Linked DNA regions of Homo sapiens. The protein of the gene in region 1 interacts with the protein of each later gene in a biochemical or structural test. Each region holds a gene or a part of one and is shown on either strand. Other genes may lie near its edges.

Region 1 (3,500 bases):
AGCATGCCAAGCTTGAAGGAACAGCCCATCTTGAAAGCCTGGGGGTCCAAGGCAGGGCAGGAATTCTAACAGCCTCTCCCTTTCTCAAAGGACTTTACAGTTCACAGAGTGCCTTCCTGCCCTTTCTCACTTGGTCCCCTTAGGTCTCTGGCACAGGAAGCAGCAGGCATCCTCACCCACTTTCATGGCAGAGAAAACCAAGCTTGGAGTGGGGTAGCTTGGGATCACACAGCTAGCAAATGATGGAGTGAAGATTCCAGTCCAGGTCTTCTGGCTGCATGTCCAGTGCTCTGTCAGTAAAATCCTGGCTGTTAAGGGCCACCCTGAGACAGAGGCAAACCCCAGTTTACACCCCCCCAGTGCAGGAAGTGGTTTTCGAGGGCAGATGCAGAGCCCGGCATCCGTGGTGGCTGTGATGAATCATCGGAGTGAGAGCTGCAGGTTGTCCCTGGGTCAGCAAACCTGGCTGCTCAGTGAGTAGCTGTGTGATGTTGGACAAGTCACTTTCAGCAGCCCACCACTACCCTCAACCCAACATCCGGTGGGCATCTGGGGCCCAGGAGCCAAAGCTGGTATGAGTGTGAACTCTGGGTGTCATAGCTGCCATCCCTCCTTAGCCTATTCTGAGCTCTGGATTGGATTTGGGAGAGGATTTGATTAGGTCCTAAACAGTGACTCCATTTAGAGGGCCTGGTTCATTTCCTGTGTGCTTACAGCAGATGAGACATGGGCAGAATTAACCTGGTCCAGCCAAGCCAAAGAAGTGATGGATGGGAAAGACACAGACCCCCACCTTGGGAGGGTGGGGCAGTGGCTTCCAGCACTCTAGACCCAAGGCCCTGGGTGAGCAAGCTGGTCTTCCTGGGGCGCCCTGGCTGGATTCTTGTTACTTCAGCTGTTGCAACAGCTGTCTCACTGGGTCCCCAGCTGCCTGTACTTCCTCTATCAGAGCAGTCCCCATGCTCCTTCAAACTAGTTGTCTAACCTCTGTTTTTTCTACTTAACTGAGGGCAGAGATTGTGTCTGACTTGTTCCCTGCCGTCCTCCTAGTACCTACCTCAGTGCTTGGAGAATGCATGAATGTATGCGTGCCCCAGTCCTCCCTGCCATCCACACATCCTGCCCACATTCCCCAGAGCAGCTTTGACACAGCACAGCTCTGCCTGTGGCATTTCGTTGCTCACAGGGCAAATCCCATGCCCACCATGTGTTCTGCAACCTCCCCCTCATCTTTGCCTCCCCTCCTGCCCTAATTTTCTCCTACACTTGCCACCCTCCCACCCCTGGGTTTCTCGGGTTTCCTATAATTGCTCCGGAGCTCCCGTCAAACCACTTCCCACCCCAGCTCTCCCAAGAACAGGGGCCTTACCAAACCTGCACGCAGTCCCTGTTCATACAGACCTGCCTGGGAGCACAGAAAGAACCATGAGCTCTGGGCCCTGTTCGCCAGCATCTGCTGATGTGGGATGCACCCAGGTGCGGGGCCTCAGGCAGCACTCCAGGCTGTTCCTCCTCCTTCTACAGCCCTCTGAGGTCCCCAAACACTTGTGTGTAAGGCTCCAAGGAAACAGGGAGAGACCCTGGGCAGGAGATATGAGTTCTAATCCTGCATCAGCCTCTCATTCTTAGGTAATTCCTTTACCCTCTGGGACCCCAGGTTTCTTATCTCTAAAATAAGACCACTGATAGCTCCCATTGTATCAAAAGCTTTTCCAGGGCCAGGCACTGTGAGGAGACTCAAATAGTCCTGTGAGTCCAGTATGATATCACTGGGCTCAATTCCAGATGAGGAAACGGAGGCTCTGAGGTGTTGAGAGGCTTGGCCAGAGTTGCACAGCTAAAAAGTGGCCCCATTGGGATCAAAATCAGCCTGGCTCGGGTATCTGAGCACATAACCACTGGGCCCTCTGAGAACCCTTCCATCTTGGTTAGTTTCTCGGCTGATCTCTCTGGGTAGGTGCCCTCTGGGGGCAGTACCCCTGCCTGAGTGGCACTTCCCCTCCTGGCTTTGTTTGGTTTGGCCTCGATTTAGAACAGGGTTGGCAGAGGCAGGCTGACTTGCATTTCTGGTTTTGGGTTTGTTGCTGCACTTTCCCCAAGGGGTGGGCGGGCTCTGACTGACAGTCACCACTGGGACAGGCCTGGGCCCCACCCTCACCACCCAGGAAAGGGGAAATGCGGCCCGCTCCCCACTCAGTGCCACTCTGTGCCACTCCGTGCCAGGCCCTGAGGGCACCCGGTTGCTGCTTCCTTCCGTCTTTCCCCAAGGACTATCAGAGGCAGGTGGCTGGGCCAGGGGGTGGGTCGGGGGGAGGTCTGGCCATGTGGTAGGGTGATAGGACTGAGGGGCCCCAGGGAGCTGGCTGCAGGGCAGTTTGTTTCTCCTGATGGAGAATGCTCCCTGGTGGGTGGGGCGATGGGCTGGGGACTGGTTTGTTCATGGGGACAGAGATCAGAAGTGGGCTTGAGAAGAACAGGGCCAGAAGGCCTGGACTCTGGCCCCAGCCTAGCCCCTAATTTGTGCAGGGTGGCTTTGGGCAAGTCACTAAGTCACTGTCTAGACTGGGCCCTCAGCCTTCCTGTCTACCCAATGGAGGGTCTTTCTGTCCACCTGGGAACAGCCTGATAGGACTGAAGCACAGCCCTTAGTTTCCAGATGAGAATTCTGGACTGGAGGCCCTGACATTACAATTGCCAACACTGACTCTGGTGTTTGGCAAAATTTGGTGTATGTGGGAAACACGTGCCTCTGGTTGAGGTCCTTAACTTCAGAATTTCCCTCTAGATCAATGCTTTTTAAAGCACTAACTCCAACACCACCATCTTCTGTAGGAGCTTTCGAGCTTTCCAGCTTTTCCAGCATACGCTCCTGATCTGTTACTCAGGCATGCTGGTTATCCCATTTCATACGTGGACACCTTGAGGCCTAAAGGTTGGTGACTGGCTCTACCTGACACCTCTGTGTGATTCTAGGTTGCCCCTTGCTCCTCTCTGGGCCTCAGCCTTTCTGTCTATGCAGTGGGGATTTCGGATCGCTGTTGTTTCAGAGTCTGAGGCTATGAGGTCTGAGAGGGCCCTTGTGTGGAGTCACCTCTGAGCTGCAGGCAGGATTTCCAGGGCAAGAAGGCCACAGCATCAGCAGGCACCTGTCTTTGGCCTGTGAGCCATAGCCTAAGGCGTGCCCTTCCCGACCTTGGCCAGATCACGCTAGAGTCCTCCAAGGCCTCCCCTCCCTTGCCCAGCCACCTTCTCTGCTCTGCAGGGCTCCACTTTCACTTTCACACTCCCAGGCTGTGGCTCTTACCCGTGCCGAGCTTTCACATCCGCTCACATCTGTGCTCCCAGATGCCAGCGTGACCCCTGACACGTGTGTGCAGCAGCCTGCAGCTGCCCCAAGCCATGGCTGAACACTGACTCCCAGCTGTGGGGCTTCACCATTACAGACTCCCCAGGGCTTCAAAGACTTCTCAGCTTCGAGCATGGCTTTTGGCTGTCAGGGC
Region 2 (3,500 bases), on another chromosome or scaffold:
GAAGATCCTAGAGGCTGTAGACTGAAAGCTATAAGCTAAGAACTGGACATCATGTGAATTTGTAAACCTCTAAAGATAACTTTCAAGAGAAAGCTGTTTATTAGTAAACTCACATTTCATGACCAGAAGCTGCCATTTCTGATGACAACTGTGTTTCTAAAAGGCAAATTTTGTTCATAGTATCATTTATATCACTCAAGAACATTGATTTTTTGAAAATATTCGGGTGCTACCTGCTAAGAGGTAATATTTTATATTGTTATATTTCTTTTCAGAACCAAACCTGTCTCTTATCATGAACGAGCTCTCTTTTCAGATTGCAACTCAAGATGCAAATGTTCAGAGACAAAATGGGAACCCATGTGCGGTGAAAATGGAATCACATATGTATCAGCTTGTCTTGCTGGTTGTCAAACCTCCAACAGGAGTGGAAAAAATATTGTAAGAAATCACCTCTCAAGTATATGGCGATGGTCCTGTTACAATATAAACAACAAAACTCTATGGGGGCTCACAGCAGACCACTACTAGTAGGAGGCTTGCCTCTTACCTCTGCCTGGTCCTTTTTTGTAGAAAAAGAAAATGTTATAACCATTCCTAGTGGTACTGGAGTTGCTGAAAAAATTAGGGTGAGAATTAGAGTCATCAAATAGGGTGGAAGAGATTTTGTAATTATGTAGTCTATTTCTCTCATTTTGCTTATAAGAAGTGTTAGCCCTGAATTAGAATGTCTGTCGTATGATCATCATAATAAGATATGCTTTCAGATCCATGTCCCCTGGCCCTAAGATCCGTGGTCCTTGGAGGTTTTAGGGAATGAACAAATAGAGGCCAGTATTAGGAGGCTTAGCTCCAGAGATTCTAGACCTTGGGGTCAGGGATCTGATAATGAGGAGGTTGATGGTTCTAGGACAACTTTGGAAAATCAAGCCAATTTGTATAATAATGAAAGGGCAGGTGGGCTGGAATGGAGGGTTTCCATAGGGCAGAAGAGGGAGATGAGGTAGGAAATATAGGTAGGAATCTATTTTAGTCAGTCCAGGCTGCTATAACAAATATACCATAGAATGGGTGGCTTAAACAACAAACATTTATTTCTCATAGTTCTGGATGATGGGAAGTCCAAGATCAAGGTGCCAGCAGAACTGGTTCCTAGTGAGGACCCACTTTCTGGTTTGCAGATGACCATCTTCACCTTTTATCCTCACATGGCAGAGAGCAGACAGGGAGAGACAGGTCTCCTGTCTCTTCTTATAAGGGCACTAAAATCACATTCATGAGGGCTACACCCTCATGAACTAATTACCTCCTAAATGCTTTACTCCAAATACCATCACATTGAAGGTTAGGATTTCAACATATGAATTTTGGGAAAATATTCAATCCTTAACAGAAAGCAATTGTGAAGGATGTAAAGTACTTCAATCATTAACAGATTCACCCTTCTCAGCACACCTTTCCATTCCTGTCCCAAACAGACTCTTCCTTATCCTTGCTCTCTGAGACTGCTTTCTATTTGTGACTGATTAAATTTGCCTTTATTTGACAATCCTAGAGGGCAGAAAATTAGACCACCCATGTATCTCATTTATTTATATATCCTTATCAACTGGATATGAATACTTAGGCTGTATATCCACAGATATACAGTTAAGTTTGTTAATTTACTCTGTTCATTGTATTATTATTTTGACTTATTTACAGCAGAAAGGATTGGTTTCTAGCAACAATGAATAAGACTACCTACTCATCTGAAACATGTTTTCATGCTTCTCTTTTTTTCTTTTCTTTGCTTTCTTCCTTTGTTATTTTTCTTTCAGCTACTGTTATTTTTGCTCACAGCTGCATGAAGGTTTTTTTGTAATGAGAGCTACCATTTATAAAAGACATTACAAGGAAAGGTTAAAGATTGGTGTTAAAAGAACAAAATTACATTTAAATCTCATGGTCCTGAAATAATTTGCATTATTTTCAGTATTTTCTTCATGTGAGAACTGAGGCACTGAGATACAAAGGACTTGCTTAACTCATTTATCTAGTGAGCGACCAGAATTAAGATTCAAAGGTTTCAACTTGACATTACAAAAAATCTATATTGCCACTCTTTCTAGAAAAGTAAATGCCAGCTTTATTTATGGTCTAAAAACTCACAAACTCTTTTGTGATTAAAAATGATAACATTATATATATGCATTCATAAATAAAATTTACAGAAATAAACTATTGAGGGGTTATACAAATTGTCTCTCTTCAGTCAAAATTTAGTTGAGTTTTATGCACCAGAATTATTTTTTTCTCATAGCCACTGTAAATTATGTCATATCCTCAAATTGTTCCCATTTACTTAACTAAGTTTTATCAAATGCCTAAAATGAGAGTCTATTCCATTCCCCAGTTGCATAATAACAAAGCAGCAGTTTCTGCTTTCATGGAGGTTACATTCTGTTGGGAAAGTATGTTTTAAAAATAAGTAAATACAGGATATCCTGATAGGTAGTAAGAAGCACTGTAAAAAAAAGACATACATTAGAATAAGAAGATGGAGAGATGGGAGTTGTTTTTTTTTGTTTTTTTTTTTAAATGGATAGTCATAGAAGGTCTCTATTAAAACCTCTAAACGGAGAACTAAAGTATGGACGCCAGCTGTGTAATCACCGAAGAGAAGAGCTGCCCGGGCAGAGAAAATAGCAGGGCCGTGAGGCATGGATGAACTTGCCAGGTTTGAGGGGATGTTTGGAAAGGGCAAAATGGGGCCTTTGCAAGGGTCATGTGTGTGGCTTACACAGAAGAAGAGAGGGAAGATCACTGAATGGTGAGATTAGAGTGGCATCCAGGTGCTACATGATGGAGAAAGTGTAAACTGTTATAAGGATGTGGGGTTTCATGCAAGTATGATGAGAAACCACTGGCAGGTTGAGGGTAGTGATGCAGTCTGACTGCCATGTTTAAAGGTTCACTTTACTTACTGGGTGGAAAGCAGATACTAGCTAGATAAGATTGGAAACAAGTTGCGCATAAAGGGAGCATTGTAACAATCTAGGCAAGAAATCATGGTTACTTAGCATTGGAAGTGGTAGCGAAGGAGGTAAGGTATGGTTAGATTAGGCAGGATTTGCTGGGAGATTGTTGTACAGGATTAGTAGTTTGTAGATAGTCATCTGCTCTTTAGATAATGAAATGTTGTATCTATATAGATTTTGCTTTGCTCAATATACTGTAATACAAAAAAATAAAAGAATATTTCCTCATTGTTTACATAATGCATGGCTACGGTAAACATTTTTAACATAACTGTCTTTAACTTTATTTAAATGTTACTGAAATAATTGGACTTTTCCCTATCGTGTTACAGATATTTTACAACTGCACTTGTGTGGGAATTGCAGCTTCTAAATCCGGAAATTCCTCAGGCATAGTGGGAAGATGTCAGAAAGACAATGGATGTCCCCAAATGTTTCTGTATTTCCTTGTAATTTCAGTCATCACATCCTATACTTTAT
Region 3 (2,875 bases), on another chromosome or scaffold:
AGAAGCCTTTGGGACCACCCGGCGTCAAGAAGGCTTTTGTCCACCCAGGCCACCCACCTAATTCGGTTCTCTTACGTGACTGCTGAGTCTGCCATCTGCCTCCTGCCCGGATTGAAAGCCCGGGAGGGTCTCCACACCCGGGCCCAGGCCAGGCTCTCCAGGGGGCTCAGGAAGCCTCCGCTGCACGGACGCGTGAGGCCGCCGGGGACCCCGAGTGCGGAAAGGACCAACGTGCCCCGCAGCGGCATTCGAAATAAAAACAGCAAACACGAAAATAACCACAGCCCTGTTTTACGCAACCTGCCCCTTTGCAGTTATATTAACAGTGGCCCCTCATTTTTCTGTGAGCCCCACTTTGCTGCTGCTGAGTTCGCCAGCGGGTCACCTGGAAGCACGTGGCGACACGGGCCACATGACGTCATCCCAGCAGGCTTGCGTCATCGCCCCGGGTGCCTGGTGACGTCACCAGCCCGCTCGCGTCACGCGCACGTTCTGCTCCTCGTGGTCCGGCCCGGCCCGCGCCATCACCGGCCCTGCTCTGCGGGGCCACCCGTGCGCCCCTTCGCCGTCCGCTGACTCCGCCCTCCCGCCTGCCGACCCGGCCGCCGACCTTCCCCCGGCTCTGTCGCTCCCAAGGCTTTCTGCAGCCCTCCGTGCTCCAGGCCGCACACCTGAGGGTGGGACCCCCGGAGGCCGAGCCGGTGTCGGATCAAACTCGGAGACCGAGCAGGGCCCAAACCGGGACCGGAGTGGGGACGGGCGGAGGAAGCCAAGAGGCTCGAGACCGAGGCTCGCCCACCCCTCGGCGCCGCCGGACCCTGCGCCACTGGGGGAATTTCCTTCCCGACTTCCCGCGCGGCCACAGCCCCAGCTCCGTCCAGCCCCGGCTCCCGGCCCCCTGGGCGGGAGAGTGAGCCCCGAGACTCCGCCCAGCCCCGGGGGTCCCGGGCCCCGTTCGCCCCCAGCGGCCCCTCCCGGCGCGTTGCTCGGCCCCGGCTGCATCGGGGAGCGCGGGATCACCCGGCCCTGTCCCCAGCGGTGTCGGAGGGGGGCGCGGGCGGGGGCCCCGCATGCCATTGTCGCCCGCGGAGGCCGCGCCCGGAGCCGAGGCGTGACTGACAGCGAGCGGGGGAGGAGCGCGGCCGTCGATTGGCTGGGGCGAGTGTGGGAAAGAATGCGGAGCCGGGTTCACACACCCCGCGGCGGCGAGGCCTTAAATAGGGAAACGGCCTGAGGCGCGCGCGGGCCTGGAGCCGGGATCCGCCCTAGGGGCTCGGATCGCCGCGCGCTCGCCGCTCGCCCGCCAGCCCGCCCGTGGTCCGTGGCGGCGCGCTCCACCCGGCACGGGGAGGCGCGGGGCGCACCATGGCCGCAGACACGCCGGGGAAACCGAGCGCCTCGCCGATGGCAGGAGCGCCGGCCAGCGCCAGCCGGACCCCAGACAAGCCCCGGAGCGCGGCCGAGCACCGCAAGGTGGGGTCCCGGCCGGGCGTGAGGGGGGCGACCGGGGGGCGGGAGGGACGCGGGACTCAGCCGGTGCCCGACCCGCAGTCCTCCAAGCCGGTCATGGAGAAGCGGCGCCGAGCGCGTATTAACGAGAGCCTCGCTCAGCTCAAAACCCTCATCCTGGACGCCCTCAGAAAAGAGGTAAGTCGGGGGCGAAGGCCCGAGACCCGGAGTCTGGGTCGCAGCTGACCTGGACCTCCCGCCTATCCCCGCCCCCAGAGCTCCCGCCACTCGAAGCTGGAGAAGGCGGACATCCTGGAGATGACCGTGAGACACCTGCGGAGCCTGCGTCGCGTGCAGGTGACGGGTGAGGCGCGGGCGGCGGCGGCTTGGAGGCGGGGGGAGGGCGCGGGACCCCCGGGACCCGGCACCGACCTCTCCTCCTGTGTCGCTCCCGCAGCCGCGCTCAGCGCCGACCCCGCCGTTCTGGGCAAGTACCGCGCCGGCTTCCACGAGTGTCTGGCGGAGGTGAACCGCTTCCTGGCCGGCTGCGAGGGCGTCCCGGCCGACGTGCGCTCCCGCCTGCTGGGCCACCTGGCAGCCTGCCTGCGCCAGCTGGGACCCTCCCGCCGCCCGGCCTCGCTGTCCCCGGCTGCCCCCGCAGAGGCCCCAGCGCCCGAGGTCTACGCGGGCCGCCCGCTGCTGCCATCGCTCGGCGGCCCCTTCCCTCTGCTCGCGCCGCCGCTGCTGCCGGGTCTGACCCGGGCGCTGCCCGCCGCCCCCAGGGCGGGGCCGCAGGGCCCGGGTGGGCCCTGGAGGCCGTGGCTGCGCTGAGGCTGTGGCCCTGAGACTGCATCGGAGGCGGCGCCCCGTTCTAGGGCCGTGGCCTTTGCCGAGACTGTAGCAGAGAAAACGTATTTATTATTCCAGAGTCTGCGTCACGAGTTTTCTTTCTTTGTCTTGGTGAAGAGTTGACTTTGGGAGCGCCCCGCAGCCACGCCGCGCCGGGGTCCCGCCCTCCTCCCAGGGCCGCGGTCTGCAGGTGGCTGGGGGCGTCGGGCGGGCCCGGGGGGGCGGGCTGGGGGCGGGACCGAGGACTGAGGGCGACCCCTCCGCTCCGCGCCCTCCGCTCCGCGCCCTCCCCTCCGCATCCCTGCAGCCCCGCATGCGCACCCGCCCTCTGCCCCCGCGTTGGGTTTGCCTCGCTCTGCGGTGGCGGTTGTGAGGGGTCCCCCCGGAGGCTCAGGTGGGAAGCTCAACGTCCCTGAGTGCCCAGAATCTTCCCGGTGCTGGAAGGCGGTCGCGCAGCATCGCCGGGCAAGTTACTTTTCGGAGGCCCCTTTCCCGACTCCCAGTCCCCGGACCGCGGAAGGCGGAGGCTGCGGTCCTGAGCGGCGCTGGGATGAGGGCGGCCGCCCTTGGCCCTGAA

Evidence for each region.
Region 2: the proteins of RGS3 (region 1) and SLCO1C1 interact in a test that uses a peptide from one of them, tested with the Homo sapiens proteins (one large-scale study listed by IntAct).
Region 3: the proteins of RGS3 (region 1) and HES4 form a complex in vitro, tested with the Homo sapiens proteins (one large-scale study listed by BioGRID).

What each region holds. Positions count from the first base shown.
Region 1 is NC_000009.12:113,578,727-113,582,226, forward strand, and holds part of RGS3 (regulator of G-protein signaling 3), read left to right. Parts: intron 1-2,201; exon of another isoform or gene 2,202-2,279; intron 2,280-3,345; exon of another isoform or gene 3,346-3,500. UniProt on the Homo sapiens protein: Down-regulates signaling from heterotrimeric G-proteins by increasing the GTPase activity of the alpha subunits, thereby driving them into their inactive GDP-bound form.
Region 2 is NC_000012.12:20,736,832-20,740,331, forward strand, and holds part of SLCO1C1 (solute carrier organic anion transporter family member 1C1), read left to right. Parts: intron 1-275; coding exon 276-441; intron 442-3,352; coding exon 3,353-3,500. UniProt on the Homo sapiens protein: Mediates the Na(+)-independent high affinity transport of organic anions such as the thyroid hormones L-thyroxine (T4), L-thyroxine sulfate (T4S), and 3,3',5'-triiodo-L-thyronine (reverse T3, rT3) at the plasma membrane.
Region 3 is NC_000001.11:998,464-1,001,338, reverse strand, and holds HES4 (transcription factor HES-4), read left to right. Parts: upstream 1-1,241; 5' UTR 1,242-1,365; coding exon 1,366-1,473; coding exon of another isoform or gene 1,474-1,551; coding exon 1,552-1,647; intron 1,648-1,725; coding exon 1,726-1,813; intron 1,814-1,906; coding exon 1,907-2,280; 3' UTR 2,281-2,375; downstream 2,376-2,875. UniProt on the Homo sapiens protein: Transcriptional repressor. Binds DNA on N-box motifs: 5'-CACNAG-3'.